Homo sapiens: one gene and its partners. The protein of the gene in region 2 purifies or fractionates together with the protein of the main gene of each other region. This does not show direct contact. Each region holds a gene or a part of one and is shown on either strand. Other genes may lie near its edges. The genes, in order: VSIG8, FBXL4, DUSP14 and TTC9C.

Region 1 (5,873 bases), on a different chromosome or scaffold from region 2:
ATTATTCCCCCTCCTTCCTGCACTTCACCCAGCACCCTAGAACTGTGGCACTTAGTTTTTTAATATAAGAGGTTGTAGTCTTATTTTCACATGTCCTTGTTTCTGTCTCACCGGATGCCTGTGCCTTCTGTGCTCCAAGGACTGGTTTCCTTTTAGCTTTCAGCAACATACAAAGACTCCCTAGACCTTCAGAGCACATTATTCTCAATAGAAAATCTTGACATGTGAAAACTTTGAATATTTAGAAATGGCAAGTGTATTGCACTTTGTCGGTTCCTCAGTTTATTTTACGGTCGTAGATATTCTGAGCTAATTCTTTTTGTCTTTGTTTTCCTTTTATCTGCACTTTGTATGTTGTTCAGAGGAGTTGCCCTGGATGGCCCCTTCCAGCTCTGACTGCCAGGGATCTAAGCAGGAGGGAGGAGAGGGGGCGTGGTCGAGGCGAGCGACAGAAGCAACCCTCCCCGGCCCTGGGCAGGGTTCGCCACCCCGTGCCCAACCTCCGTGGAACGCGGACAGCCACTTCGGACTCACGTCTCAATGTTTCTTTATTGTGCTAACACTGCTGCCTCAGAGCTCAGACCTCACACACAGAACAATTCGTCCAGACAGACCCCCACCCACCCGGCCCCCGGGGCCCTCTGCTTAGGCTGGGGACACCAGGCCTCCGGCCTCAGCCGCTCTAGGACACTCAGCCTCCTCCTCCCTCCCTCTCCCCCAAGCCTTCGGTCCCGGGGGTGCGGAGAAGGCTCAGGATCGCCTTCCTCCGCCCTCGCCCGCCCCTTCCCACTTTTGGGGAGGAGGCTCTGCCTCCCTACGCATTTCCTTAGGGAAATGCCTTCACCCCCAGCCGCCTGGCAGCCTGGGGCGAGCGAGGTCGTCCCCAGCCCCGACGTGTCCCCAGCTGCAGACAGAGAGCCCCGCGCCCTCCTCCTGGCTGGGGCGCAGCCCGGCCCGGCGCGCGCGCTCACACCAAGAGGCCGTTCTTGCACTGCACCGGCCCCTCGGCGCAGTCAGCCGGCTCCGCGCTCTTGACCTTGACGTAGACCGGGGAGGGGCCCGCTTCGCAGGCGGCGGCGGCGGTGCAGGGCGCCAGGGCCACGTCCTCGGGGCCGCCGCAGGGGGGAGGCGCGTACTTGCGGCGCAGGGAGCGGCTGACGTTCTGCGTCGGGTACCCCAGGAGGTGGGTGACGCGGCTGCCGCGCCCGCTGGCCTTGCACCCGGGCGCCACGGCGTCCTCTCTGTGGAAAACAACAGGCGGGCGGGTGAGCGGGCTGCTCCGCAGCGGGGCGTGGGCACGGCCTGGGCAGAGCCGGGGGCTCTTGGCAACCTCTTGTCTCCCGCGCCTCCCTCCACCTGCCCTCGTCTCTCTCCCTCGGCCTCGACCTACTGTCCTTTGTGACCCTTCCTGGGTCGGCGACCCTGCAGCGGTCCCGGAGCCAGCATCCCCATCCTCCAGACAGGGCTTGTCCACGCGTATCTGGAGAGCCCTGCAGGCAGCCCCCTCCAGGCCCCTGCAATCCCTTTCTGATGTTTCGCAGGCCCAGAAGAAGGTGCTTTTCCTCTTCTTCTTTCCTTAGCTAATCCTGACCTTGCTCGAGCAATCTCTCTCTTTCTCACCTCCTGCCCCTCAGTCTTCTCCATCTTTCCCTCCATCCCCGAGGCATTGCAATCATTAGCACTACTAGACTTGTTCTATTTTTATTTCTAGTTTGCTTCTAATATAAGTTATTAGCACTATTCTTATTATTAGCTCTTCTTAAATAATAATGTCAGAGTTCTTACCGGCGCAGTACAGGGGAAACGTGAAAAAACATAGGCCCTGCCCTCCAGGAGCTTACAGTCTAGACAAGACAGACAGGTGCGTAGGCAGGAGGGAAATGGAAGGCAGGGAGCAGAGGTGAAGACTGGGGTGGCAGGGGGAGGGGAAAGCCATGAGTTGGGTGGCAGGTCGACATGCCGCAGTCCCAGCACTCCGTGGCGATGGCGGGCAGGGTTGGGGTGGGGGGCCCAGCCGGCCGGTGGCAGGCAGGAGTGAGGTGGGCAGGGCGCCGGTTCCCTGCCGCACAGCAGCATGCAGCATGCATCAGGTTTTACCTGATCTCACTAGCCAAGTCGCCGCAGGCCCCTCCGCCGACCCCGCCGCCGTTGCCGTAGCCGAAGGCACCGCGGGCGCCGCCAGCCCCGGAGCCCCCGCAGCAGCAGCAGACGAGCCCCCAGATGCCTACGGCCAGGCAGCCCAGCGCGAGCAGAGAGCCCAGGACGATGCCGATGATCACGCCTATACGCCGGGAGTCTGTGGAGAGAAGTGGAGGCAGGTCAGGCTTTCTCACAGCCTGGCAGGTGCCTGAGGGAACAGCACCAGGAGGTGCCAGGTCAGGGGTTAATGGGAAAGAGGGAGAGGGACCCAGGGGGTCTCTTAGCCCTGGAACACCCAGTGGGGAAGATATGGGGAGATGCAAGTTAACCCCTCGTGTCAGCATGCTTCTCCCAGGGCTTCCAGCTGCTCTGGGCTCTAGAGCTCAGAGTGGAAGCTGTGCTGGGCGAGCTTGACCCAGCTCAATAGGGTCAAGATCGTACCCACTGATCTTGGCCCACTTGTAGGAAAGGGGCTGGGAGCCCCCACTGGCAAATGGATGGCAGTGGAAAGGCAGAAGCAGCTGAGGCTCCAAACCAGAGCCCAGCCTCCTCCAGTTCAACCCTCCCAACCACCCAGCCCTCAAGACTGCTGCACCTACCTGAGACCTTCACCTCCACCACACAAACACTGTAGCCCACGTTGTTGGCCACTGTGCACTGATACAGCCCATCATCTGCTCTGGAGATATCCTTCAACACCAGGTCCCCATTGTTCAGGCCTGAAAGTGAAGTGGAGAGAGGCCTGGTCTCTGAGAGCTCCCACCCCAACCTCAGTCCCTGTGGGGTGGGGGATGGGACACCCACTCTAGAAGAAGGGAAGGCTTATGCATGTGTGTACACCCACACCCACACACACACACACACACTCCACTCTCCAGGTGAGTCACCTTCCCCCTGCTGTGAAAGAGATGCAAGAAAGGACCTCTCTCCCAGCAGCAAGACAGGGACACCATTAATTCACTCTGACCTTAGGGAAATATGTACGCTCTCTGAGCCTTGGTCTCCTCCTTTGTACAGTGAGGACAGGAGAAGCCAGGGGAAGAGGAACTCTAAGGTCCCTCCTAGCTCTATTATTCTTTGTTTGACTGAATATTTTCAGCTTCTCTATGTACTAGGAGCTTTACACACCTCCCCCATTTAATCCTTGCATGCCCATGAAAGGTATATGTTAGTATTCCCTTTCCATATATGAAGAAATTAAGGCACAGGGAGGGTAAGCCACTTGCCTTAAACTTGGAGCCAGTCAGTGTCCCAGCCAGGATTCAAGCCCAGCTCTGTCTGAGACCAGGCTCCCTCCAAATTCGCCATAGTACTTTTGACTGACTCTCCACATTTGCCTTATCATCTGCTCTCAATAGCAGCTGCTGGGCCAGGCACGGTGGCTCACGCCTGTAATCCTAGCGCTTTGGGAGGCCAAGGCGGGCGGATCGCCTGAGGTCAGGAGTTTGAGACCAGCCTGGCTAACATGGTAAAACCCCGTTTCTACTAAAAATACAAAAAATTAGCCAGGTGCGGTGGTGCATGCCTGTAATCCCAGCTACTCGGGAGGCAGAGGCAGGAGAATCGCTTGAACCCGGGAGGCAGAGGTTGCAGTGAGCCGAGATCATGCCATTGCCCTCCAGCTTGGGCAACAAGAGCGAAACTCTGTCTCAAAAAAAAAAAAAAAAATAGCAGCTGCTGGGGCAGGCCCAGAGGGAGGGTCTCCCACAGGGATTCCAGGTTTGATTTGATGGCACTGATAACCCAAGGAAACCCCAACAGGTCCCAGAGTCCCTGATCTTCCACTCACCCCCGACTGCCCTCATCCAGGGCCCTCTCACCTTGGTTTATGGAGCTGTGGAAGGACTCCTGGTAGGACAGCTCTGAGTGGTAGCTGTGCTGGGAGGTGTAAGACCCAGCTCGATAGGGGTAATGGTGCCCACTGATCTTGGCCCACTTGTAGGAGAGGGGCTGGGAGCCCCCACTGGCATAGCACTTCAGCACCACATCGTTGCCATATGTCATGTGGCCCTCTGTCCAGCACATGGGCACTGCAGGTCGTGCTGCAAGGAGGCAGACAATTGTAAGCCAGGGCCCAGCCAAGAGACAGAGCCAGGCTCAAAGTGGCCAAGCTGCCCTTGGCTCTTAAGCCAGGGGGAGAGGAGCTTAGAGGAGTCTGGCCATACCTTGGACAGTGACAATGACCTTCCGGGTGGCCATGGTGGTCTTCTTCACCCGGCACTCATAAGTGGCTGTATCAGATACCTGCAGGTTCATGAGGTTGATGGAGGCATCGTACTGGCTTGGGTCTGAGGCTGCAAAGCGGACCCTCTGCTGCAGATGGGGAAGGCTGCCATGGTTGATCCTCTTGTCCTGGTAACTAAGGAACTGTGAAGAGGAGAGGAAAACAGGTGGTGAAACAGGCAGAGCCAAGAAGGGCCATGTGGATTGGCTGCTTTGGGCAATTCACTGAACTTCTCTGAGACTCTTTTCTCAGCTGAAAAAATGAGAATAATGATGCCTGAGCCACTGACCTCTTACAGAACTGGTGAGATCAGGTGAGATCAAGCACTTGGAAAGATATATGGTCAGACTGGGAACTTTTTGAAGGCAAAGACTACAACTTATCTTCCTTTTAGAATGGGATGGGAGGAGGTAGACTGACTGGCTAGCTTAATTCACAATTGCAGAGCTCTCATCCCCATTGCCTCATTCCCTGAAAGGCCTTGGGGGAGGTTCAAGGTCAGTCTTCTCCCTTTGGGATGTTGGCTGTCCAACAGGTAGACATCATGAAGCCTAGAGGAAGGAGACCCCTGTGCCCAGCACTCACCACGTTCTCTCGGTGGTGGGCGGGGTCTGAGTTGACCTGCATCCACTCGATGTCCAGCCCATTGGGACCATAGTCCTCAGGGTCCAGGACGTAGGGGCAGCCCAGCCTCACATTATCACCTTCTGCCAGGTACAGGACCTCCTGTCCATCCCCGTTGATCCGCACAGCAGACAGCAGTGCTAGGGGGAGGGCAGAGAAGATGGGGTGGTAGGAGCAGAAGCAGGGCTTCAGGAGGAGTCAGTGTCAGCCCTTCCCTTCATATTCTCTGTCCACGGCACCCAGAGGTCAGCAGTGCTTTCATAAAAAGGAGGGCTGCTCGTAGTGGGTGTGTATGTGTGTGTGCATGAATTGTCACAGGCATATAACAGCTATACATATAGCTGTTATATATGTAGCTGTTATGTATGCTTGTATGTATATATGATTATGTGTATGCATGTATGAATATGTACACGTATGTACATTGTATGCTTATGAGTATTTGTGGCTGCTTATGTGTACTGTGAGGATATTCATGTACATGACCACGTAGCGTGTCTGCTTATATATTTATATGATAGTGTGGATGTGTTTGTGTGTGTGAAGGCATGTGGTACACACAGAGTTGTTAAATGCTCTGATAGAAGAGCCTGGCTGATTAAATGTCACCTATGTGGGCTCTGTCTGGGCTGAGTGAAGTCCTCCTGTCCAGAGGCAGCGGGGTGGTTACAATGGCTTCTGGGACTCCTCTCCAGCCTGAGAAGCCAAAGACTAAGTGTGTCTATGTGTGTCTGTGTATGACAGTGTGAGTCTGTGGCTGTATGCCTCTGTGTGGTTTTGTATAGTGATGTGTGACCATGTGAGCTATGTAAGTGCTTAAAAGTGACAGTGTGTGCTTGTGCATGACAGTGGACAGCTGTGACCAGGAGCCTGGCTGTGTTCGTGT
Region 2 (6,943 bases):
GAATACTATGCAGCCATAAAAAATGATGAGTTCATGTCCTTTGTAGGGACATGGATGAAATTGGAAATCATCATTCTCAGTAAACTATCGCAAGGACAAAAAACCAAACACCGCATATTCTCACTTATAGGTGGGAATTGAACAATGAGAACACATGGACACAGGAAGGGGAACATCACACTCTGGGGACTGTTGTGGGGTGGGGGGAGGGGGGAGGGATAGCATTAGGAGATATACCTAATGCTAGATGACGAGTTAGCGGGTGCAGCGCACCAGCATGGCACATGTATACATATGTAACTAACCTGCACATTGTGCACATGTACCCTAAAACTTAAAAGTATAATAATAATAAAAAATATATAGAGAGAGAAATGAAAAAAAAAAAAAAAAGAGTTCTGTACACAGGCGGATGGCTCCTCATCTAGGCTGGTAATTTCACAGGGGCTGTGACGCAAACCTATTTACCCAAACCTTCCATTATATTCAGCAGTGCCCTGAAATGATCAATTTTGAAAGTGAACTAATGAGATACTCAAACTTATTTTATTACTCTAAAGTACAGAATACAAACAACAGAAATCATTAGATATTGAACAGCATTTTTATGTAAATAAAATTAAAATATCTCAGTCGTCTGTACAGACAACTTCATTTGTAACAGAGACTTGTTTTATCTTTAGTGTATTCTACTCTATTTATCTGATACGACTATTTTGCTTTTAAATGTTTTCCTTAAAATTTTTATAACTAATACTTCACTAATTACTTTACCAAATACATAGATTAAAATATCCCTAAATGTCAATTTTAGCAGGACTACCTTTTTCCTTTCAAAATGTAGTCAAATATACCTTTAACAGTATTCATATGCACAAAATTTAAGCCAAATATTCAAGCTTACAGGCAAAGATCTTGAGCACACTTACTGCTGTGCCAAAGGAATAATCTTGGCCCCATCCCTACTTATAAAAAATATATAATAAATCATGATCTTTGATTAAAGCAAATGACTCTTAACAGAATGTGAGCTATTGCCAAAAAAATGATTCTAACAGTTATGGTTTTACACTCACAGCCTAGGTTTCTAGTAGTATGTTGTCAAAAAAAGCAAATGAGGTGATGATTGGCAGTTAATGGTCATTGACAAGATTTTAAGGGTAGTTAAAAAAGTTTCTCTGAAGTATCAATATCAAATGTGCTAAAAGGAGAAAAGTAGATGCAGCACTGATGTGTCAAAAATGACTTTGAAAATGTAAATTCCTGTGTCTGTAATAGGTATCCTTTAATAGCTGAAAGTAACAAATGAAAAGCCAAACATTCACTATTAACATACATGGGGCCTGACACAGTGGCTTATGCCCGTAATCCCAGCACTACAGGAGGCCAAGGTGGGAAAATTATTTGAGCCCAGGAGTTCAAGACCAACATAGGCAACATGGAAAGACTGTGTCTCTATAAAAAATAAAAAAATTAGCCAGGTGTGGTGGTGTCTGTAGTCCCAGGTACTCGGGAGGCCGAGGTGGGAGGATCGCTTGAGCCTGGGAGACTGAGGCTGCAGTAAGCTGAGATCATGCCACTGCACTCCAGCCTGGGGCAATAGAGTGAGACCCTGTCTCAAATATGTAACACACACATACATACATAAATATATACACACATACATGGTAGCCAAATGGAAATTTTACTGACTCTTTGATTAGTATCATTACACTTCACATATGAGTTTTAGTCTTCAGTTAATTCCTGGGAAATGCCAAAAATAAAAATACTGCCACAGAGAAATTAGTTTTTCTCTGCTACATATTGGCTCAAAAGTAAGCACCTGAATATTAATTGTCTACATTTTGTATTTTTAAGATCTTATTTCAAAACAATTTACATTGAGAGTATTATTTATGCTCTTAAACAGGATCAGGGATATCTTTATTTCTAGACTCTGGGAAGATAATTTACCTGAGCAAAATGCAAAGATAAATAATTATACAAAAATTTAAGTCAGTTGTCAAAGCTAACAATGCATCACCTGGCTTCAAAATTTAACAAACAAAGAGTCTACATAAATATCTTTCTTGTCTACACATCTTTCTTGTTATGGTAAACATTTTGTTTTTTCTAACAAAACACTGCTCTTCATTTTAAAATCTAAATGGCAAAATGAGAATGATAACAGCGAATTAACAGGTTTGAATGTGGTTTATAAAATTAGGAATGGGCAAACATGGATTAACTGACTCGAAAATACTCTGGAATAGGGGTCACAAATTTGGTCCACAAGCCAAATCCAGCCAGCTCATAAGAACAGTTTCACATTTTCTAATGGCTGAAAAAATCTAATGGCTAACACAGTAGTATTTTGTAACACATCAAAATTATGTAAAATTCAACTTTCAGTGCTCATGAAATTTTATTGGAACATGGCCACACTCATTCGTTTAGGTACTGTCTATGATTGCTTTCACATTAGAATGGCAGAGTTGAACAAATGCAAAGGAGACTTATGTGGTGCTGTCATCATTTTGCACTGCTACTTGGCACACTAAAAACTGCAGTAATGCAGTTACCAGCATTTTGAGTGCCACATATGTTGTCATACCACAATATTTTTAAATTTTTTATTACTAGTGCTTACCCATAACATCAAAACAAGAGAAAAAAAGAAAAGTAGACTTGAAGTGACATTTTTAAGGCACATTAGTATATGAATTTTTAAAAATCAGATTAGATGTCAGAGTATGATGTTTAATATGCAATGTCATTATAGCTGTTCTTAAAGAATACTATAGGGAGGTCAGATGCAGTGGTTCATGCCTGTAATCCAAGCATTTTGGGAGGCTGAAGTGGGTGGATCACTTGAGGTCAGGAGTTCAAGACCAGCCTGGACAACATGGTAAAACCCCATTTCTACTAAAAACATAAAAATTAGTTAGGTGTGGTGGCATGTGCCTGTAATCTCAGCTACTTGGGAGGCTGAGGCAGGAGACTCGCTTGAACCTGCAGGGTGGAGGTTGCAGTGAACTGAGATTGTGCCACTGCACTCCAGCCTGGGCAAAAGAATGAGACTCAGTCTCAAAAAAAAAAAAAAACAAACTCAAAAATGAAAATAAAGTTGCAGCCAAAGTGACTCAGATGTTAACCAAGCAAGGAAAACATTTTACTAACGATAACTAAATTGTGTTTGATTCTATCGGCTGAAGGACTGTGTCCAAAGTAAACTTAAGACTATTAAATTAGCCTTTTGGCAAGAATGGTTGCTTAAAGAATTGAGAACACTGGGAACAACATCAACAGTCAATAAAAAACAAGGCAAATGACCCTGAGTGGTTTTCCTTGGCTCTTGATGAGTCAACAGATGTTACTGACACTGCCTAGTTATTGCTTATTTGATAAGTCAATGCCAACGTTGAAGTGACTGAAATTAGTCTCTATGAATTATCTGTGTGGCACAATTACAAGCATGAATATTTTATAAGAAGAAAACACAAATTTCATGCAACCTGAAGTAGAATCTGCTAAGATGTGTTACAACTGGTGGTGTTAAAAATGTGTGAAGCAAAATGATTACGTTTGTCAAATTTATAAAGCCTGTGAAAAGGTAAGAAGGTATTTAAAATCTATGGTTATTTACTGTATTATTCATCAGCAGGTACTTTGTGGGATATATTTGATTCAATTTTGTATTACTGAACTACTGGTAGCAATGGTGAACTTCATTTGCTCTCATAGTTTCTGATAGATTAAACATCAATGGTTCAGTTATCTTTTGTCAGATACAGAAGATGAATATGCTGATTTGCCCAACCACATTGGCATAATAGTGTTAGTTCTATTGTGAGCTTTTGCGTTCAGGGCTGATATTGACATTTTTCTGAAAAAGAAGACATGTCCTCAATCACTATTATGGAACACTGAATGGCTTTGGAATTTAGCTTTTGCTCAAGACTTAATAAAATTTTGAAATGAATTCAAGCCAAAATTACAAGGCAAAACGTGTTTACAAGCAAAACATAAGTCATTTTGATGACAACATTGTTTGAATTACAAGTAACAACAAGCTGCTTTACACATTTCCTGTGCTATCAAAAGGTAAGACAAAGAAGCGAGATCTCCACTCTCACACAAATTTGTAGCTCACACCATAGTGCCTGCAGTATTTTTTGGAGTTTGCAAATGTAAAGGAAATTTCCATTTTTCAAAATCAATTTAACAGTGCAATTGAGGAGCTTCTGCCTAGTCTTCAATTGGAAGTGATTAAGCTGCAATGTAATAACATGCTAAAAGGAAAATATCCAGAGAAGAAGTAACCTTTCAAGTGATGAATATGCTCAACAAAAATCATATTCTCATGGATTAATGTAAGTATTTGACAATACCTATCTGCAAGGAATTTTCAGAAGTAAAATACATAAAATCTTATTACAGATCAGCATTAACAAATGAGTACTTACAATCAACTTTAATGACACGAAACATTAACTTTGATCCTCCCTGTAAATATTTAATTCTTTTCATTAGTAAACCCGTATTACAAAAAAAATTGTTCTAAATTATTGTTTTGAATTTTGTCAATAAAATTTTCGTGCAAATTTTATTTCTCTCTAGTTATTTAAGTATCTACATAACAATCTCAGTTTTACCTCTTAGCCCACAAAGCCTAAAATATTTACTATCTGGCCCTTTATAGAAAAAGTTTCCTGACCTCTGCCCTAGAGCCAGAAGCTACCCTGAACACCTAAAAGCACAGGTTTAATGCAATGCTTCAGAAGCCAGATGGCCTGGGTTTATATGTTGGCTCTGCCACTAGCAGCTGTATGATCATAAATAAATTCTTCAATCTTTCTTTGCCTCAGTTTCCTCATCTGTAAATGGGGGTAAGTAATGGCATTTATCTTACAGGGTTGTTGTGAGAATTGAATTAGTCAATGCAAAGCACAAGAAACAGTGCCAGGCACAAAGGAAGCATTCTCCTCATGTGACTACTGAACACTTGACATACATCGTTTTGTTAAAAAAATGAATTAATTCTGCTACTCAGAAAGTAGACAGAAAATATTTTGTGGCATGAAAAGGCACAGCTGTTTTGAACACAAAACTAATATTAACTGTAGTATAACAAAATTCATTGTCCTGTTAAGTGCAAAATCGTTATATTCCAGCATCCACACACCCTAGCAAGATATATATCTCTCTCTATATAATATATATAATTATATATATGTATATAATATATACATGTACATTACATATAATATAAATGTAATATATAATTATATAATATATAATATATACATGTATATATTAAAAATCATAAATGTGGATATATATTATCTATAATATGTATATATAATGTGTATATATAATATATATCTCCACATTTATGTTTTTTTATATAATTCAGAAACCTCAAAACTTTACCTTTCACAAAATGTTAAGGCATCTGCTTCTAACAGTTGGAAAGCTTTTTTTATTTAGTAGTTTACCTCTTATTCTTGATTATACCCAAATTTTTATATTGGCATTATCCAGTAGTGAAATAGACAAAAATATCAGAAGAAAAGTGGAAACACTACAATTTTTTTTAAGAGAAAGGGACTTGCTATATTGCCCAGGTTGGAGTGCAGTGGCTGCTCACAGGTGCAATCATAAGTACACTAGAGTCTCAAAATCCCATCTCAAGTAATCCTCCTGCCTCCACCTCCTGTGTCGCTAGGACTACAAGTGTGTGCCACCACACCTGGCTAGAAAAACTAAAAATTTTCCAGTTGAACAGTTAATCCAGAGAAATAACCAAACAGCTGGAAAAGCATGTCTCATTCTCCAACTAGCTCTGACCATTTTGTACATACCAAACAAAACACTTGCCAGGTCACAGGCTTAATAAGACATCCTTACATGAAGGTGTAAAAAATTAACTTTTTTTTTTGCATAAATGCCACGATACTTTATTGCTCAGTGTTCCTTTGAAAATAAGTTAGCATGATTCCATGTTATTCTTTTATCAATCATATTATTGACTAAAGCATATCACTGATTAACATAAGGTAAAAATAATATCCACTCATATTCTTGAAGAGAAGTGCTTGCAGTATTTTATGAAAACATTTGTGCACATTTTTACTTGATTTAATGGACAATTTCATATTTTTCTTTAAAATCTACAAATGTCTTAATTCTTACCATTAAAACAACTAAAAACAAAACCCAAAACCAATCCCAAAATTAAACCCCAACAAAGCACATTAATTTTAATACAGAACATATATTAAGTCACTGAGTAAAGCTCTTTTTTATGAACACTTTTGGAAAGCTTGCATTCAGTTCTAGCACAGCTCTGTTATCAATCTGCGAACAGAAGGACACATCAAGTAAAGAAAGATCTTTACAAGATTCCAGGAGTTTTCTTAAGGATGCCGGACTTACCATTCTTGTTCCTATTTAAGGGAAACAAAACAAAACAAAACAAAACACCTTAAGTATAACATTTATATAATGTGCTAACAATGAATCCATCCATGATTTATTGTTTGTAATGAACTTAAAATAACCCTTTACAAATTAAAATCATTTTTTCAAACATGACTTCATATTGAAATGGTTCTGTTAAAAAAGTAAAAGTTGAATTTTCCAGCCAATTTAGCATCTAGGACCTGAATCTTGCCAATATCCTACCCACTATCTTCATTCCTACCTCCTACCCCTTCAAATCAGCTCCTCCAGACTTTCCTATTTCTGTCACCCCAGTTCAAAATGGTTTTCACCATGCATTTGATGTAAAATGTGCAAGTGCGATATGACTTCACAAAGTATCAATTGTGTGGACAATGATAACTACTGTGACACTGCTAGCACCCCTGGCTAAAAGTAAGAAGCAACAAAATTACACAGGGTTCCTTTCTGATGAATGCAGCAAGGATTCAAGAAATCCCAGAGCTGGAAAAGATTT
Region 3 (7,031 bases), on a different chromosome or scaffold from region 2:
ACAATATGACAATGTAATAGTTCCCTTTAGAAGACTACATTACTAATTAGTAAAACATTTCTAGGCTGGGCATGGTGGCTCACGCCTGTAATCCTAGCACTTTGGGAGGCCGAGGTGAGTGGATCACCTGAGGTCAGGAGTTTGAGACCAGCCCGGCCAACATGGTGAAACCCCGTCTCTACTAAAAATATAAAAATTAGCCAGGTGTGGTGGTGGGCACCTATAATCCCAGCTACTCGGGAGGCTGAGGCAGGAGAATCGCTTGAACCCGGGGGGATGGAGGTTGCAGTGAGCCGAGATCGCGCCAGTTCACTCCAGCCTGCGTGAAAGAGCGAAACTCTGTCTCAAAAAACAAAAAACAAACAAACAAACAAAAACACTTCTAGAGGGTCGGGTGTGGTGGCTCACACCTGTAATCCCAGTACTTTGGGAGGCCAAGGCAGGAGGATTGCTTGAGCCCAGGAGTTCGAGGCTGCAGTGAGCCAGGATCATGCCACTGTACTCCAGACTGAGCCAAACAGTGAGACCCCATCTCTTAAAATAAAAAAATTTAAAAAATAAAAAAAAGAAAGTTTGCCAACTGATATGGTTAGGCTCTGTGTCCCCACTCAAATCTCACCTTGAATTGTAATTCCCATAATCCCCACGTGTCAAGGGCAGGACCAGGTGGGGGCGGTTTCCCCCATGCTGTTCTGGTGATTTTGAGTGAGTTGCATGAGACCTGATGGTTTTATAAGCGTCTGGCATTTCCCCTGCCTGCACTGACTGTAAGTTTCCTGAGGCCTCCCCAGCAATGTGGAACAGCGAGTCAATTAAACCTCTTTCCTTTATAAATTACCCAGTCTCAGGCAGTTCTTCATAGCAGCGTGAGAATGGGCTACTACACCAATCCTTGGTTGAAATTAGTAAGTTATAAAACCATCACAGCATAGTAGACGCATTCTTCAAAGTGTGCTCCCAAGGAGTCCTACACGAGAATCACCTGGGCTGCCTGTTAGAATGCAGACTCCTAGACCCCACCCCAGACCTAATTAATCAGAATTTCTGGAAGTGAAGGCCTGGGAATTCACATTTCTAGTAAGTACCTTTTTAGAAGGAATCTAAAAATATTATTAAGAGTAATCTGATATTGTGGAAAAAATATCTCCTGTACTTTCTAGGAGGATAAATGGAATAAGAAACTCCGTAAGTGTAATTTTTGTAAAAAAAAAAAAAACTGATTACTTTCATATAATACAGTAGTCATTTGGATTTAAGATACAATCTAGGCCGGGTGCGGTGGCTCACGCCTGTAATCCCAGCACTTTGGGAGGCCGAGGCAGGTGGATCACGAGGTCAGGAGATCGAGACCATCCTGGCTAACACGGTGAAACCCCGTCTCTACTAAAAATACAAAAAATTAGCCAGGTGTGGTGGCGGGCACCTGTAGTCCCAGCTACTGGGGAGGCTGAGGCAGGAGAATGGCGTGAACCGGGGAGGCGGAGCTTGCAGTGAGCAGAGACTGCGCCACTGCACTCCAGCCTGGGCGACAGAGCGAGACTCTGTCTCAAAAAAAAAAAAAAAAAAAAAAAAAAAAAAGATACAATCTAGTACACAAAACAAGTTCTACTCCATTTCCATTTTGGATCACCTTTGGCTGAAAGTTTACACCAAGTAATTGAAGCTCTGTAAAACACTAAATACTTCTCCAATTTTTGTTAACAAGAAACATCATGTGACAAAAAGGAAAAAAAAGAAATATCATGTGAAATGTGAAATGCTCTAAGAGTTCCATCCCCTAAACATAGAACATATGTGACAGTACAAAATAAAGGCTAGTAAAGATTTCTGTCCTTTTTTTTTTTTTTGAGACAGGGTCTTGCTCTGTCACCCAGGCTGGAGTGCAGTGGTGCAATCTAGGCTCACTGCAGCCTCAACCTCTGGGACTCAAGCGATCCTCCCACCTCTGCCTCCTGAGTAGCTGGGGCTACAGGGGTGCGCCACCATGCCTGGCTAATTTTTTGTAGAGACAGGGTTTTGCCACGTTGCCCAGGCTGGCCTTGAATTCCCGGGCTCAAGTGATACTCTGGCTGGCCTCAGCTTCCCAAAGTGCTGGGATTGTAGGCATGGGCCACCATGCTTAGTCTTGTCTTGTCTTTTTTTTTTTTTTTGAGCAAGAATCCTGGAGCACAGTGGCACAATCATGGCTTACTGCAGCCTCGACCTCCTGAGCTCAAGCAGTCCTTCCACCTCAGCTTCCCAAGTAGCTGTAACGATAGCCATGAGCCACCACATCCGGTTAATTTGTGTTTTTTGTAGAGACAGGGTTTTGCCATGTTGCCCAGGCTGGACTCGAACTCCTGGGCTCAAGCCATCCACCTCCCTAGGCCTCCCAAAGTGCTGGGATTACAGGCATGAGCCACCACACCAGGCCTCTATGTCCTTTTGACATTCATCAAAAAAGCAGTTTGAAGGCAGGGCGCGGTAGCGCATGCCTGTAATCCCAGCACTCTGGGAGGCCAAGGCAGGTGGATCACTTGAGGTCAGGGGTTTGACCAGCCTGGCCAACACAGTGAAACCCCATCTCTATTAAAAATACAAAAATTAGCTGGGCATGGTGGCATGTGCCCGTAATCCCAGCTACTCAGGAGGCTGAGGTAAGAGAATCACTTGAACCTGGAGGGCGGAGGTTGCAGTGAGCTGAGATTGTGCCACTGAACTCCAGCCTGGGGAAGAGACTCTGTCTTTAAAAAAAAAAAATGCAGTTTGAAGTAAAATTGATATTTAAATAGAGTTGGAAGGAAATGTACCAAATTCATGGGAGTGGTTGTCTCAGTGGGAAGGGAAGAGAAATGGCCCAAGGAAGCTCTGACTTGATAATACTTAATTTCTAAGCATTATAAAAGATAAAGTATGAGCAATGATTTTTGAATGGTGAGTTATGATGCTGGTTAATTTGCTTTCAATAATTTTCTTTTCTTTTTTTTTTTTTTTTTTTGAGACAGAGTCTTACTCTGTTGCCCAGGCTGGAGTGCAGTGGCTCAATCTCTGCTCACTGCAACTGCCTCGTCCTGGGTTCAAGCAATTCTCCTGCCTCAGTCTCCCAAGTAGCTGAGATTACAGGTGCATGCCACCACACCCGGCTAATTTTTTGTTTGTTTGAGATGGAATCTCGCTCTTTCACTCAAGCTGGATTGCAGTGGTATGATCTTGGCTCACTTGAACCTCCGCCTCCCAGGTTCAAGCAATTCTCTGTCTCAGCCTCTGGAGTAGCTGGGATTACAGGGGCCCACGACCACTCCCGGCTAATTTTTGTATTTTCAGTAGAGACGGGGTTTCACTATGTTGGTCAGGCTGGTTTCGAACTCCGGACCTCATGATCCACCCGCCTCAGCCTCCCAAAGTGCTGGGATTACAGGCATGAGCTACCGTGCCCGGCCTAACACCCGGCTAATTTTTACATTTTTATAAGAGATGGGGTTTCACCATGTTGGTCAGGCTAGTCTCGATTGAACTTTTGACCTCAAGTGATCCACCTGCCTCAGCCTCCCAAAGTGCTGGGATTATAGGCGTGAGCCACTGTGCCCAGCATAATTTTCTATATGATTTCAATTTCTAAAAGTAAAAAATATTTTTAATAGAAGAAAATTAACAACACATAGTTGTCGGTCCAAGCCCCCTCTCCACTTCTGGCCTGAGCCTGCCAGTGCTCTTTATATAGGAGCCAGGATAACACCAAAGATTTATAATGATGACATGAAGTGTGTCTTCATTATAAATGTTTTGTGTTTTATAATGAAACACAAAGATTTAAAAGATTTAGTTAAATCTAAGATTTAGATTTTAGCTAAATTGGCAAAATTCTTCATTATAAATCTCCAAATTTGTATGTAATTTGTATGTTGACAGTACTTCCAGATTTTATTTTTACAAGTGCTTCCTTAAAACTTAAAGCAGGCTGGGCGCGGTGGCTCATGCCTGTAATCCCAGCACTTTGGGGGTCCGAGGCAGGTGGATCACGAGGTCATGAGATCGAGACCAGCCTGACCAACATGGTGAAACCCTGTCTCTACTAAAAATAGAAAAATTAGCTGGGCGTGGTGGCATGCGCCTGTAATCCCAGCTACTCGGGAGGCTGAGGCAGGAGAATTGCTTGAACCTGGGAAGCGGAGGTTGCAGTGAGCCGAGATCGCGCCACTGCACTCCAGCCTGGTGATGGAGCAAGACTCCGTCTCAAAAAAAAAACAAAAAAACAAAAAAAACAAAACTTAAAGCAAGTTCACCTACTGGTCACTTTCCCAGGCAGGGAAGGCTGGTGCTTTGAAGGCGCTCTCTGCCACATAATGTTTACTAGTCAACAGAAGCAGCATGCTCTAGTTAGGGAGTTTTCTCATATGTACCCACACACTCAAAGACATAGGAGTCAAAACAAACAAACAAACAAACAAAAAAACTTGCCCTAGGTCATTGATGCTGAAACTGTTCTGGGACAAAGACAGAAGTAAACCCAGCAGTTGCATATGAACTTCAAAAGAACCTTCTCGTCCACTGAGGTTTCAACATGGCATGGGGTGTGAAAAGCTGACCCAACCGGACCTCTGGTTGCTCTAGGTTGGTGCAAGAACAGAATGGGACGTGCCCAGGTGAGCTGGGTGGGCTGCACATGAAAGGGCATGGCTGTGATCTCAGCCCTAGGCCTCCTCCCTCGCCCAGGCTGAGGCTGCCCCTGCCCTGCAACAGGTGGAAAATGGAGCTCCTTTGTGAAAGCTGCCCGCTGGAAGGCCGAAGGGGTGACAAAGAACACGACAGGGCTCCTCCCCCATCACTCAGATCAACAGGTTCTCATACTAACGACTTCTTACTCCTCCTCCTTTGGGTGTCTTTTCCTGAAAACTTCTAATTTATCCGCATGTGGTTTCTAAAATTATCATTATTTTAGAGAATCTGAAAAAAAATCTTTACTATAATGAGCAAAAAAGTCTTTGTGACTTATGTAAATAAAGACTGAAAATAGAGTGATTTAGCTATTTTCCAAGATGCTTTAGAGAAGAAATAAAAAGGATCTACAAATCTCAGTCTTTGTGCTAGTGTTCTTCCATCATCCCTCCAGCTAAAAAGGATTCCCCTGAGGTATTTTGTAAACCTACAGAATTGCGTAACATTCTGCTCTAAGGGCAGAAACACAGCACATAATACTAGGCACATGGTAAGTACTCAATGAACACCTGAATTTAACGGCTGCCCTCAGGTGAACTGCCCACCTCTCCCCACACCCTCCCTCCTGCTCCTTCTCTTTCTCACATTCTCTCACTCTCTCTCACACACACACTTCAAATCCAGCTGGCAAAACTAAACACGGGCAATCAAAGTGAGCCTGGTAACTGTCTGTTCACAAAGCAGGAATTCAAGCTGGATGTGGCACATGCTGCAGTCCCAGCTTTTAGGAGGCTGAGGTGGGAGGATCCCTTGAGCCCAGCAGTTCAAGGCCAGCCTGAGCCACACTGCTAGACTCCATCTCTTACAAAGAAAATGAACAAAAACGACAAAAACTCTGCTCTAAGCTACTTCTACTTTCTCAGGCAAAGGAAAATTTGGAGAAAAATACATTTAAAAGATTTAAAGGCTGGGTGCGGTGGCTCACGCCTGTAATCCCAGCATTTTGGGAGGCCGAGGCGGGCGGATCACGAGGTCAGGAGATTAAGACCATTCTGACTAACATGGTGAAACCCCGTCTCTACTAAAAATACAAAAAATTAGCCGGGCATGGTGACGGGCACCTGTGGTCCCAGCTACTAGGGAGGCTGAGGCAGGAGAATGGCATGAACCTGGGAGGCGGAGCTTGCAGTGAGCCGAGATCGCGCCACTGCACTCCAGCCTGGGCGACAGAGTGAGACTCTGTCTCAAAAAAAAAAAAAAAAAGTTTAAAAGAGTCATTGATTCCTGTAGCACAGAGTCTGTGGTTACTTTGGAATTGCCAAGAAGTATGAGTTAGGGTCTGTGCACAGTGCCTCTTAAGGAGTCTCATCCTCAGAGGGTACTTTAACAAGGATAGGCCTGGGTTCCTGCACACTACACTGTCCTACACATTTAGGGCTGGGCACAATGGAAGCATTCACCAGAGGCAGGATTCATTCAAGAGCCTTAAAAAACATCTAGGTACTAGCCACTTATTTTTAGTACTTCATTTTGCATATTTAAAATTTCCTGTAACTACTCATCTGTTCCAAAAAAAAAAAAAAAAGATTGATGAAAGGATTCCATTAGATATTTGTCAACCAAACACAGTGGGAAAACCATTTCTGGTATTTGGGTGGTTAGTCCAAACCATATAACTAAATAAAAATACGCTAGCACATGACAGGCCAGGGATCGGACTACCCAGGGACCTTTATTCATTCATTCAGAAAATATTCAAGCATAATTGTGGTTAAACAGCAAATACAGTGACTTACAAACTCAAGGCTGACACCACTGAAGGAATGTAAATTGGTACAACCACTTTGGAAACCAGGTATCAACTAGTAAAGCTGAAGGTATGCACACCTGACTCAGGGCTGTTCATAATTGCCCCAGACCAGAAACAACCCAGATGTCCATCAACAGTGGAAAGGTAATTTGTGGTATGTTCATAAGACAAAAATGTACTAACTGGGCTGGGTGTGGTGGCTCACACCTGTAATCCCAGCACTTTGGGAGGCCCAGGCAGGAGGATCCCTTGAGCCCAGGAGTTCAAGACCAGCCTGGGCAATATAGTGAGACCTTGTCTCTAAAAAAATTAAAACACAAAAACTACAGGCATAGGCAACGATATGGATAAATCTTTTAAAATAGCATGCTGCAGAAATTTAAAAAATTATATATGTGCGTGTGTATATACATACATACACACACACATACATACACATACACACACACACACACGATGCCGGCCAGAAGGAAGGATTCACAAGAGTATCTACTTTTAGTTTGCACTGAGGTTAAAAACAAGCAAAATAAAACTATGTCAATTAGGGATTTATATTTAGGGGATAAAAACTATAGAAAAGAAGGAA
Region 4 (7,031 bases), on a different chromosome or scaffold from region 2:
TCAGAGGTATAGGGTTAATTTCTCTTGCTGAGGCTCAGATTTCTCCTTCATGCATGTTTAATGGTCCACCTAAGTTCAACTGGAGGAGCATCTTTCTTCTTTGTTAACCAAACATGCCCAGGTAGAGCTGCTTCTCTTTTCTATGGTAGCTGCTGAGTTCTGACTGTGTCAGCTGGAGGTACCGCCGGACGTTGGCATCTTGGAAGATGATGGAGAAGCAATTAGAAACAGTTAGAGTCAGTTAAGACCATAATCATACCTTGTGGCAGGAGAGAATGTTAACATGCTCCCATTTTAAAATCTCTCCAAGATCTGAATATATCGCAACCATTCTATGCAATAGTAAATCTCATTAATTAATAACATTTGGAATTGAAAAAAAACAATCTCTGTCCCGGCTGCTAATTTTTATTTATTTATTTATTTATTTATTTTATTTATTTACTTACTTTTGAGACAGGGTCTCGCTCTGTCACCCAGGCTAGAGTGCAATAGCATGGGATCTCCACTTACTGCAACCTCCGCCTCCCGGGTTCAAGCAATTCTCATGCCTCAGCCTCCCAAGTAGCTGAGATTACAGGCATGCACCACCATGCTTGGTTAATTTTTGTATTTTTAGTAGAGATGGGGTTTCACCATGTTGGCCAAGCTGGTCTGGAACTCCTGACCTCGTGATCCACCCGCCTTGGCCTCCCAAAGTGCTGGGATTACAGGTGTGAGCCACCATGCCTGGACACTGGTTGCTAATTTCATAATGAAAGCAAGATTGATGAAGCAGTTATCATTAAAATAGAGCCTCTAAAGATACTATTCATATAGGTGGCAGTTAATTTATGTATTGGATGCTGAGAAACATGAACAAATGGCTTATATTTTATATCTTTATTAATTCATAATGGCTTTCTCATTCATTTAGATGAGATTTTACTGCACTGCTATACATTTGGTGACTCTGCTACTAGTATCCAGTGGCTATTGTAAGCCAGAATGCAAAAGGGAGACAATTTTCAGTGCTCAACCAACCAACACAGGAATGAGTCTCTCATCTGCTTCACAATATCCTTTTTGCCTTGGAAACAAAGTAAGTCCCAAATTCTCTCTCAGCAGGACTGCCCTTTTTCTAGGTCATACCTGGGGTTAGCTGAGCTAAAGGATAAAAATGATAGCTAAACCAAAGGCCAGACCCCATTTGGAGAACTGGCAGAATGAAAATTATCAAGTGTATTTGTTGGCATTCACACATCCTATTCCAATCACTGTTTTTTTGTTTTGTTTTGTTTTGTTTTTGAGATGGAGTCTCCCTCTGTCTCCCAGGCTGGAGTGCAGTGGCGCGATCTTGGCTCACTGCAAGCTCTGCCTCTCGGGTTCACACTATTCTCCTGCCTCAGCCTCCCGAGTAGCTGGGATTACAGGCGCCCGCCACCACGCCCGGCTAATTTCTTGTATTTTTACTAGAAACGGGGTTTAATCATGTTAGCCAGGATGGTCTCGAACTCCTGGCCTCACATGATCCGCCCACCTTGGCCTCCCAAAGTGCTGGGATTACAGGCATAAGCCACCATGCCCAGCCTCCAATCACTCTTAAAGACCAGGAACAGAACTTGAAAAACGACACTCGCTTTTTTTTTTTTTGGGATGGAGTCTGGCTCTGTCGCCCAGGCTAGAGTGCGACACAATCTCAGCTCACCGAAACCTCTGCCTCCTGGGTTCAAGCGATTCTCCCTGCATCAGCCTCCTAAGTAGCTGGGATTACAGGGGCCTGCCATCACGCCCAGCTTTTTTTTTTTTTTCCGAGACGGAGCCGCCCTCTGTCCCCTAGGCTGGAATGCACCGGCAGGATCTCAGCTCACTGCAAGCTCCGCCTCCCAAGTTCATGCCATTCTCCTACCTCAGCCTCCTGAGTACCTGGGACTACAGGCCCTCACCACCACGTCCGGCTAATTTTTTGTATTTTTAATAGAGACGGAGTTTCCCCATGTTAGCCAGGATGGTCTCGATCTCCTGACCTCGTAATCCGCCCACCTCGGCCTCCCAAAGTGCTGGGATTACAGGTGTGAGCCACTGCGCCCGGCCACACCCGGCTGATTTTTGTATTTTTATTTTTTTTAGTAGAGATGGGTTCCGCCATGTTGGCCAGGCTGGTCTTGAAATCCTGACCTCAGGTGATCTGCCCGCCTTGGCCTCCCAAAGTGCTGGGATTACAAGTGTAAGCCACCGTACCCAGCCCCAAAAAACAACACTGTTTTTTTTTTTTTTTTTTTTTTTTGAGACAGAATCTCGTTCTTGTTGCCCAGGATCTCGGCTCACCGCAACCTCCGCCTCCTGGGTTCAAGCAATTCTCCTGCCTCAGCCTCCCGAGTAGCTGGGTTTACAGGCATGCGCCACCATGCCTGGCTAATTTTGTATTTTTAGTAGAGATGGGGTTTCTCCATGTTGGTCAGGCTGGTCTCAAACTCCTGACCTCAGGTGATCCACCCACTTTGGTCTCCCAAAGTGCTGAGATAACAGATGTGAGCCACCCCACCTGGCCTGCCTATTTTATATATATATTCATGTATATGTATAAATATATACACTGTATATTTATAAATAAAAGCACGTTGATATACATATATTTATATATTAGAATAGGCATACATACATATATGAAACAGACATACCAACATATATATTGTGTATGTCTGATTAAGCATCAACCCCCTACACATGAAACTAATAATACTGCTTTTCTGTGGAGACAAGAACACAAGAGTGGAAAAAGGTCTGTTCATCGTATACTTTTTCAGTTCGAATTCTCAACCATGTGAATGTATTACTTATTGAAAATAATACATTGGCAAAGTAAAATAAAACCCCCTTTCCACAGATCCACCCCAGCAAGACAATTTTGTCTTTACCATTTCAAAGCCCTTCTTGCTTACCTTTAGGCTGCCTATTCACGGCAGCCAGGAGGTAGTGGCGGGCCTGGTCATAGTCCTGCAGATGGAAAAAGGCCACTCCGGCCCGATACAAGGCCTTGGCATTATCAGGCTGTCGTTCCAGGACTTTCTGACTATATTCTCTCACTCGTTCGTAGTTCACGGGCTCCATCTGAAGGAGACAAGCTAATGGGCCAAATGAAAAGAGAGAAGAGGTAGGAGGGGCTCGTTACACCAGGTTCCACTGGCCAGCTCAAGACAGTACTGAACAGGGTGGTAACAACATTCAGTCAACAAATGCTAAAGTGTCTCCCATATGCCAGACACTCTTCTACACACTGGGGATGCAGCAGTGAATAAAAGCTTCACATATCGGCCAGGTGCAGTGGCTCATGCCTGTAATCCCAGCACTTTGGGAGGCCGAGACGGGTGGATCACCTGAGGTCGGGAGTTCGAGATCAGCCTGACAACATGGAGAAACCCCGTCTCTACTGAAAATAAAAATTAGCCAGGTGTGGTGGCGCATGCCTGTAATCCCAGCTACTCGGGAGGGTGAGGCAAGAGAATCGCTTGGACCTGGGAGACGGAGGTTTCGGTGAGCCGAGATCGTGCCATTGCACTCTAGCCTGGGGAACAAGAGTGAAACTTTGTCTCAAAACAAAACAAAAAATTCATATATCTTGTAATCTACTTCAATATTTACTGATTTTCTGCTACATATTTAGTAGCCAGTTAGGCTTGGCTATAAAGCTGGTAAGAACATACTTTAAAATTTATTTAAAACTCGGCTGAGCATGGTGGCTCATGCTGTAATCCTAGCACTTTGGGAGGCTGAGGTAGGAGATTTGCTTGAGCCCAGGAGTTCAAGACCAGCCTGGGCAACATAGTGAGACCCTCCCCTGTCCCTTTTTTTTGGCAGAGTATTCACTGCAGTGTTATAAGAAGTGTATTCCGAATAACAAATGTATTCTTTTTTTATTATTTTTTTAAGACAGAGTCTCACTCATCAGCTAGGCTGGAGTGCAGTGGCATGATCTTGGCTCACTGCAACCTCCAGGTTCAACCAATTCTTCTGCCTCAGCCTCCCGAGTAGCTGGGATTACCCATGTCCAGCTAATTTTTGTGTTTTCAGTAGAGATGGGGTTTCACCATGTTGGCCAGGCTGTTCTCAAACTCCTGACCTCAAGTGATCTGTCCACCTTGGCCTCCCAAAGTACTGGGATTATAGGCATGAGCCACTATGCCCAGGTGAGACCCTATTTTTTTTTTTGAGATGGAGTCTCGCTCTGTCGCCCAGGCTGGAGTGCAATGGCGCGATCTCAGCTCACGGCAACCTCCGCCTCCTGGGTTCAAGTGATTCTCCTGCCTCAGCTTCCCGAGTAGCTGGGATTACAGGCACACATCACCATGCCCGGCTAATTTTTGTATTTTTGTAGAGATGGGTTTTCGCCATGTTGGCCAGGCTTGTCTTGAACTCCTGACCTCAGGTGATTCGCTGGCCTCAGCCTCCCAATGTACTGGGATTATAGACGTGAACCACCCTGCCCAGCCCCCTCATTATTATTATTATTTTTTGAGATGGAGGTCTCGCTCTGTCGTGCAGGCTGGAGTGCAGTAGCGTGATCTTGGCTCATCGCAACCTCTGCCTCCCAGGTTCAAGTGATTCTTCTGCCTCAGCCTCCTGAGTAACTGGGATTATAGGCGCTCACCACCATGCCTGGCTAATTTTTGTATTTTTAGTACAGACGGGGTTTCACCATGTTGGTCAAGCTGGTCTCGAACTCCTGACCTTGTGATCCACCTGCCTCTGCCTCCCAAAGTGCTGGGATTACAGGCGTGAGTCACTGTGCCCGGCCCCATTAATTTTTTATATAAAATTAGATATGCAGTGAGCCGAGATTGTACCACTGCACTCCAGCCTGGGTTATGGAGCAAGACTCCATCTTAAAAAAAAAAAATTAGATAAATTACAATTTTTTAAAAAACAAACTAACCTTCATTGTATCTCTTCTACCTGAGGCTCTATGTCCTGAATCCCCCATTTCACCACAGTTCTTGTACTGCAGCTTTGTTAATAATGGTTGCCATTAATTGTCAGGAAATGGCAAGCGCTGTGCTATGTGCTTGATATACACTGTCTTGTTTAATCTTCGCATCTACACTATTAAATAGGTGTTACTATCTTCATTTAGTGGATGAAGAAATCAAGACTCAGACAAATAACTTGTCTAAGATCTTACAGGTTCTAGGTGGAATATGAAATTTGAATGAAGTGTTGTCTAACTCCAAAATCATCATTCTCAGTAACAATACAGCATATAACTTCACTATTCTCTTGGATGACTTAATGGGACCTTGAAATACAAACCTGCAGAGGAGTCAATTCAGGCAATTCAGGTCAATGTTCTGCCTTTTTATGATTAAGAAGGGAAACACTCCCTATTTCACAACTGTGGGAATTAAACATAGTATTATTAAATCATGGTGCTGAGAAAGATCAAGAATCAGCAGTGATGAGCACATTAAAGGGCCTGTGCTGATGTCTGTATCCCTTCTACAACATCCCCACCAAGTGGTCAAAAAAAAAAAAAAAAAGTGGAGGAATACAGAAGAAACAAGTAAATGAATTTTTTGTTTGTTTGTTTTTAGACAGAGTCTCCCTCTGTTGCCCAGGCTGGAGTGCACTGGTACGATCTTGGCTGACTGCAACCTCCACATCCCAGGTTCAAGCGATTCTCTTGCCTCAGCTTCCCAAGTAGCTGGGACTACAGGCACCTGCCACCACACCCAGCTAATTTTTAAAATATTTTTAATAGAGATGGAGTTTCACCATATCAGCCAGGATGGTCTCCATCTCCTGACCTCGTGATCTGCCTGTCATGGGCTCCCAAAGGGCTGGGATTACAGGCGTGAGCCACCGCACCTGGCCCAAGTAAATTAATTTTTTTTTTTTTTGAGACGGAGTTTTGCTCTTGTTGCCCAGGCTGGAGTGTGCAATGGCGCGATCTTGGTTCACCACAACCTCCGCCTCCCAGGTTCAAGCAATTCTCCTGCCTCAGCCTCCCTAGTAGATGCGATTACAGGCATGCACCACCACGCCTGGCTAATTTTTTTGTATTTTTAGTGCAGATGGGTTTCTCCATGTTGGTCAGGCTGGTCTTGAACTCCTGACCTCAGGTGATCCGCCCACCTCGGCCTCCCAAAGTGCTGGGATTACAGACATGAGCCACCATGCCCGGCCCAAGTAAATTAATTTTTAAAAGTGCTTTAAGAGGCTGGACGCAGTGGCTCACGCCTGTAATGCCAGCACTTTGGGAGGCTGAGGCAGGCAGATCATGAGGTCAGGAGATCGAGACCATCCTGGCTAACACGGTAAAACCCCGTCTCTACTAAAAATACAAAAAATTAGCCAGGCGTGGTGGCGGGCGCCTGTAGTCCCAGCTACTCGGGAGACTGAGGCAGGGGAATGGTGTGAACCCAGGAGGCAGAGCTTGCAGTGAGCCAGAATTGCGCCACTGACGCCAGCCTGGGCGACAGAGTGAGACTTGGTCTCAAAAAAAAAAAAAAAAAAAAAAAAAGTGCTGACCAGGCGCGGTGGCTCACACCTGTAATCCCAGCACTTTGGGAGGCCAAGGCGGGAGGATCACTAGGTCAGGAGATGGAGACCATCCTGGCTAACAAGGTGAGACCCCGTCTCTACTAAAAATACAAAAAAAAAATTAGCTGGGCGTGGTGGTGGGCGCCTGTAGTCCCAGCTATTCGGGAGGTTGGGGCAGAACGGCATGAACCTGGGAGGCAGAGCTTGCGGTGAGATCACGCCACTGCACTCCAGCCTGGGCGACAGAGCAAGACTCTGTCTCAAAAAAAAAAAAAGTGCTTTAAGAAAAATAAAACTATGTCGGGACAGAGAATGAATGAAGTCAGAGTGCTGTTTGCTTCTGGAAGGCTTTTTGGTGGGAGGAATCGGGGGACAGAGTCTTACTTGCTCTGTCACCCAGGCTGGAGGGCAGTGGCCCAATCTTGGCTCACTGCAGCCCCGGCCTCCCATGCTCAAGACATTGGCCCACCTCAGTTTCCAGAATAGCTGGGACTACCGGCAAGCACAACCATGCC

What was found.
Region 1: the proteins of FBXL4 (region 2) and VSIG8 purify together in Homo sapiens (affinity purification with mass spectrometry; 2 studies listed by BioGRID and IntAct, with this or other methods). This does not show direct contact.
Region 3: the proteins of FBXL4 (region 2) and DUSP14 purify together in Homo sapiens (affinity purification with mass spectrometry; 2 studies listed by BioGRID and IntAct, with this or other methods). This does not show direct contact.
Region 4: the proteins of FBXL4 (region 2) and TTC9C purify together in Homo sapiens (affinity purification with mass spectrometry; 3 studies listed by BioGRID and IntAct, with this or other methods). This does not show direct contact.

What each region holds. Positions count from the first base shown.
Region 1 is NC_000001.11:159,853,786-159,859,658, forward strand, and holds the end of VSIG8 (V-set and immunoglobulin domain-containing protein 8 precursor), read right to left. Parts: intron 5,128-5,873; coding exon 4,949-5,127; intron 4,507-4,948; coding exon 4,305-4,506; intron 4,182-4,304; coding exon 3,960-4,181; intron 2,859-3,959; coding exon 2,739-2,858; intron 2,376-2,738; exon of another isoform or gene 2,297-2,375; coding exon 2,098-2,296; exon of another isoform or gene 1,242-2,097; coding exon 968-1,241; 3' UTR 531-967; downstream 1-530.
Region 2 is NC_000006.12:98,868,011-98,874,953, forward strand, and holds the end of FBXL4 (F-box/LRR-repeat protein 4), read right to left. Parts: intron 6,432-6,943; coding exon 6,268-6,431; 3' UTR 525-6,267; downstream 1-524. UniProt on the Homo sapiens protein: Substrate-recognition component of the mitochondria-localized SCF-FBXL4 ubiquitin E3 ligase complex that plays a role in the restriction of mitophagy by controlling the degradation of BNIP3 and NIX mitophagy receptors.
Region 3 is NC_000017.11:37,492,862-37,499,892, reverse strand, and holds part of DUSP14 (dual specificity protein phosphatase 14), read right to left. Parts: intron 1-7,031. UniProt on the Homo sapiens protein: Involved in the inactivation of MAP kinases. Dephosphorylates ERK, JNK and p38 MAP-kinases. Plays a negative role in TCR signaling by dephosphorylating MAP3K7 adapter TAB1 leading to its inactivation.
Region 4 is NC_000011.10:62,731,455-62,738,485, reverse strand, and holds part of TTC9C (tetratricopeptide repeat protein 9C), read right to left. Parts: intron 5,369-7,031; exon of another isoform or gene 5,287-5,368; intron 3,105-5,286; coding exon 2,922-3,104; intron 199-2,921; coding exon 104-198; 3' UTR 1-103.